Regions from separate parts of the Homo sapiens genome. Here region 1 is linked to region 2. Evidence: fine-mapped expression QTL. A gene starts in region 2. The other region holds a variant in brackets. All regions are shown on one strand. Distances are from middle to middle.

Evidence for each region. PIP is the estimated chance that this variant, and not a neighbour inherited with it, causes the effect. A credible set is the group of variants that fine-mapping cannot tell apart.
Region 1: its variant is the best candidate, but not a certain one, in a credible set for the expression of CAP2 in tibial nerve (GTEx, PIP 0.52).

Annotation. Positions count from the first base shown.
Region 1 is chr6:17,359,435-17,362,352 of GRCh38, reverse strand. No RefSeq gene overlaps it. Among named protein-coding and RNA genes, the nearest start is that of CAP2, 33 kb to the left of the region's middle. The variant A/G (reference allele first, on the strand shown) is at 1,311.
Region 2 is chr6:17,391,997-17,394,914 of GRCh38, reverse strand. It overlaps CAP2 (cyclase associated actin cytoskeleton regulatory protein 2), which reads right to left and starts at 1,320. Exons shown (of 13, transcript NM_006366.3): 1 at 1,169-1,320.

The sequences.
Region 1 (2,918 bases), 33 kb after region 2:
TTATGGTCAATGATTTGACAGTGTTATCGGGATTCAACTAATCTCTCTTTCTAATTTGCCATCTTATGGTGTTAGCTTTTATCATCATGCTAGTTGCCCCATGATCTAAGCTGACACTGATCTAGGCATTATCCTCACATTGAACTCAGAAAAAAAGGAGAAGGTAAAGAGAAGATGCTGACAGTTGTATCGGTTCCTTTTTGCCAGGAAAACATTCTCATAATCCCTAAGTAGGCTTCAACTTGCATGGTATTGGACAGGCCTGTTAAACATGGAATTGTCCAGTCTAGCTACAGAGGATTCTTGGAAAATTTAATTTTCCAGCTTCTTTTCAGGAAGGCAAGGAAGAAGGGGTTGGGAATGGAATATTGAGCCAAGAGATTTTGCCACTCTTTTCTTTACCTCCAAATTATTATCAACCTTAAACAACAGATGTCATTATATTAAATGGGATCAAACTATGTGTGTATTTACGGAGGAAGGAGTATCACTGGTATTTGAATAATTCTAAAGTCAAAATTGGCCGGGCACGGTGGCTCACACCTGTAATCCCAGCACTTTGGGAGGCTGAGGTGGGCAAATCACCTGAGGGTAGGAGTTTGAGACCAGCCTGACCAACATGGTGAAACCCTGTCTCTACTAAAAAGACAAAAACTAGTGGGACGTGGTGGCGCAGGCCTGTAATCCCAGCTACTCGGGAGGCTGAGGCAGGAGAATGGCATGAACCTGGGAGGTGGAGGTTGCAGTGAGCCTAGATCATGCCATTTTGCACTCCAGCCTGGGTGAAAGAGCAAGACTCCGTCTCAAAAAATAAAAAAAAGATATAAAATTATATTTCTTCTTACAACCACATGGCTTTGTTATTAAAGTTTCTTCCTGATATAAAAATACAGATTAAACTTCACAATGATGGGAAGCACTTCAAGATAAATATTAGAATAGATACAATTCTCATTCTTAAGATACTTTTTAGAAAGAAAGTAAATTTGGACAGCTGATCAAAATAGTTGGCAAGAAGACAGGAAAAATAAACAAATACTGCTTTATTTTAATGTGCCAGGTCCAAACCAGCCTTAAATAACTCTACAGAATCTTTTATGAAAAATGATTCACTCCAGGAGTCAAATGTCATAGGCATTTTTTCCCCTAAGTACCGGCCAAAATTGGTGCCCCCACTTCCAACTGAGGGGGCTCACTTGACTCATAAGGGCCTATTAGCATGTCTCTTCTCAACCCCAAGTTCAACGATGTTCATTTTAGTAGCTTGAAATTGACCACCGTGGAAGTATTTTTACCACAGAAATTGGAAA[A/G]TGTTACAAATCACTTATTTTCTTAGTTTTTAAAAATGGCAAATTTTATTTTAGATTCAAGTGGTACACGTGCATGTTTGTTACACTGGTACATTGAGTGATGCTGATGTTTGAGGCACGACTGATCCCATCACCTAGGGAGTGAGCATAGTACCCAGTAGGTAGTTTTTCAGTCCCCACTTCCCTCCCTCCCTGTCTAGTAGTCCCCAGTGTCTGTTGTTCCCATCTCTGTGTCTGTGTATGCCCAGTGTTCAACTCTCACTTACGAGTGAGAACATGTGGTATTTGGTTTCTGTTCCTGTGTTAATTTGCTTAGGGTAATGGCCTTCAGCTGCATCCATATTGCTGTAAAGGGCATGATTTCATTCTTGCTTACGGTTGCTTAGTATTCCGTGATGTATATGTACATTTTCTTTATCTAATCCTCTGTTGATGGGCACCAAGGTTGCAAATCAGTTATTTTTTTTTCTGGAGAGTACTTAAATAACTACTAGCGTACTTCTGACCACTTGCATTAATTTTTAGAGTTGACTACATTACACACCTAGAAACAAATTTCCCCCATTTCATACTCAACATGAAGGCTGCAATGGATCCATTTGCTTTTTCACTTGCATGTCATTTTTCTCCCTAACATAACACCACCACAACCACCACCACCACCAACACCAACAACAACAAAATCAAGGTAGCCAGTAGCAATTTTTATGGCTTAAAAAAATTAAGCTGTGAAAATATTGGCATGAGTAATCTGATGGAGGGGTTAAGAATATACTTGGCTGTGCACAGTGGCTCACGCCTGTAATCTCAGCACTATGGGAGGCCAATGCAGGCGGATCACGAGGTCAGGAGATCAAGACCATCCTGGCTAACACAGTGAAACCCCGTCTCTACTAAAAAGTACAAAAAATTAGCTGGGCGTGGTGGCGGGCACCTGTAGTCCCAGCTACTTAGGAGGCTGAGGCAGGAGAATCACTTGAACCTGAGAGGCGGAGCTTGCAGTGAGACAAGATCACACCACTGCACTTCAGTCTGGGTGAGAGTGAAACTCTGTCTCAAAAACAAAACAAAACAAAACAAGAATAAATTCTTGGCACAGTACTTTGGAGCCAGGGCTACATAGAAGAAACTCTTTGGCAGAAAAGCTCCCATTGACATTAGTGGCTGGTATAGGGCAAAGTAAAGGCCTTCACTGTGGGGTAAGGTCCAGGGCAGAAAATGTTTCTACAGCTCCAGTCCTTACTGCCTAGGAGGTGAGGACTTTTATTTCCTGAACAGTACCAAAAATTACTGTCAGGGTATATAAGTGTTGTAGAGGAATTGCTACACCACTATTATCAGTATCCCAAATGGTATCAGTCATCCTGACACTAGGTACCCTAGAATAATTGTGGCAAAGGTAGAAATGTGAATGAGTGCAGAGTAGATTGAGTAGAATGAGTCCCCACTAGATTGAGAGTGAGGTTGGACACAAGAATCCGATCGTCTTCAGGTATACAATTCTATTTTATCTTCAATCAGATTATTCTTGACTAGAAGTTCATCATCTTTTTCAGGTTTGGAATTTGGGGAGGTACCTTTAATAAAGATACATGTACCATGTTCAGT
Region 2 (2,918 bases):
CACACTTTTATTGTCTATCCATTACATGCTGTGAGCCAAATACTGTTTGGTGCCGTAGGAACTACCAAACAACCCATCCTTGCTTTCAAGAGGCTTGCAGTCTAATTAGACTCTAGTAACTATAAATCCAATTCTCTAAAGTTCACTCTACCGTTGTAATTTTACACTAAGTGGGCTTAGATAGTTTACCAAGAATTCTAAGGAACATAGCTTCAATGAAATCTACAGAAGCAGTAAGGAAATAGGAGTACTCAGTAAACTACAGTGCTCAAGTCCCAGAAGCTTCTGCATTTCCATAACTATAAAACCAAAGGTCCTAGATGTTTTTACCAAGTGTTCATCTCCACTCTGGCTGTTTGGACCTAGTCCCGGTTCAACTTCCTAAATGCAGTCACCCATACATACTCATTTTTAAGAATGCATCCATTCAAATATTGCTACAACTTGCAGCGAACACCACTCTGATGAGAATAAAGAAAAGGCCATCTGCAGGTTGATTTTTGGCCCTAAAAGTGATGATACGGCGGCTACTTCCACGAACACCCCTCTACCCAAAGCAGTCAGAGAGCCAGCGGCGGGTGCCGTTTTTCCGAGCCGTTCCCCCAGTCTCAGTTGCCTCTGCATTTTTTAGAAGTGACTCATCGCCTCAAGTCAGGTTCTGCAGAGGGGAAGCCAGGTCTGTTTCTTTCCAGCACTTTCTGATCGAGGTGGCTCTGGTCAGAGCCGGCGCAATGACTCCCACCCCCACCCCCCTGGAAGACTCACAGCCCGGTGGACGAGACCCCCCAAAGTTAGAGCGGCCGGGCGGGCGGCGGCGCTGGGGTGGGGAGGCCGCGGCCGCCCGCCAACCCCGGGCAGCTCCTGCCCGCACCCCGCCTTCCGAGCGGCCAGGACGCCGGAGCTGGGGAGGCGGGGGCAGGGCGCGCCGCTCCGCTGACCCAGATGGGAGTCCGCCCGCGCCCGCGCCCCGCGCCCGGGTCGCCGCGCCCCGGCCCCCGCGCCCGCGCCGCCTTTATTCCCCTCGCGCTGCTGCCACAGCCGCAGCGTCCCGGCCGCTTCCCTACCCCACCCATCGGGCTCAACTTGCCAGCGCCCGCCGCCAGGCGCCCCCCGCACCTGCACCCCGACCCCTCCCCGCCTCGCCGGGCCCCGACCGCTGCAGGATTACCTGCTTCGCTGCCCTGGGGTCCCGTCCTCGGCAATGCAAATCCGTGGTCGGCCACTCGTACCCTCCTCCCGCGGCCCTCCCCTTCTCCTCCCCTCTCCCTCCTCCCAGCTGAATAGGAGCCGGTGTCAGTCACGCTGCTCCAGGGGAGAGTCGCCGGCAGCTTCCGGAGCTCCAAATACAGACGAGCTGAGGGGGGAGAGGGAGAGCAAAGCCACGCGGGTGGGGAGTGGAAATAAAGGGGAGCAGAGAGGAGAAGGGGGTGGAGGAAAGGAGGGGCAGATGGGCCGTGGGAGAAAAGACAGGGAGATGGGGAAGGCAGAGCCAGGGAACGCCAGCCTGCCTGCCAAGCGCCAGGCTATGCGAGAAATGGATTCAGTGCATGAGGCAGTATTGCAAAGAAGTCTGGAAAGATCCGGAGGCTCCTGGCTGAAGGAGGCACAGATAGGTTGGATACCCGAAGATCTGTGCAGAGAAATGGGTAATGGATCCTTAGGAATCAAGAGACGGCATGTGTGTCCCCAGACCCAATATGAGGATAAAGGCTCTGGGAGGAGAAGGAGCTAGACAGCTAATGCTTTAGCGAGACATCAAGACTGAGTGCACTCATAGTGCGTGTGATGACATTTTTAAAAAGTATTTTATAAACAGCAACTTTTTAAATGTCCTGATTATTTAAAAATTAAAGTAACCAAACCCACTTGGCTTCTTAAGATGTGCAGCATATTTGTGGCCACTTCCCCTTTATATATTGATTATAATTGCAAAATTGGAGGCTTTTCTCTTAACGTCATTAGAAGGAAAGCATTGATTTTCAATTTTCATCAAAGTTTATTTCAGTCTAAAAAAGTGACTTGAAGCTCTTTATTGAATGAATGCCAGGAAAATAATTGCAGAAAAGAGAAAAAAAGAGGGGAAATGTAACTGATATCTTCTGAAAGTAAAATCTCCAAACAATAAATATGAGATGAATTTCTTAAAGGCCAATATTCTCTGTCGATGTTAAAATTGCACATAAGTTGGTTCTGTACATTATAAGGCTTATTCTGACCCCATAGGTCAGCACTTATACAAAGGTCATTCCAATTACACATTGCTCTCTGCTGACAGTAATGAGGTGCAGTGAGTCTTTGCTTCCCTTTGTCTGGAAAGAAGGGAAACAAAATGACATAAACATTGATCAATGAGTGCGTACATTGCATAAAGCCAGAGCCAGCACCCTCCCTATCCTGTGGATACCTTGCATATGGCGGGCATTCAATATGTTTGTATTAAATAATGAATGAATGGATGGATGGATGAAGTATGTATGCATTTAGAACATTTGTGTTCCAGAAATGCAGAAAAAATATATATCCATAAGAATCAATGTGTGCAGGATCACAGGGAAGTTCCAAGCATCCATTCATATGACTTTTTTTTAGCACTAACTTCAACAAACATTAGCACAGTATTTCCTTAGCTACATCTGTTTTTTATTGGAGTATAAAGTATTATGGAGTCTAAGAGTGGATGAGCCACAAATCCTGTCTTTAGGTTGATAATATAGTAGGAAGATGTGAAGAGTATAAAAATAACCACAGTTCTAGGAATGTCGTAAAAAACATTCTAAAAGAAGTATGAACAAATTTCCATGGATGTTCAGAAGAAAGGAAGGTTGCTTCTAGACTGGGGATTAGAGAACACTTTCTGATGGACATGAAAGTTGAGTCTTCATGCGGAAATGAGACATTAAGAGTGGATTGTGGAGGAA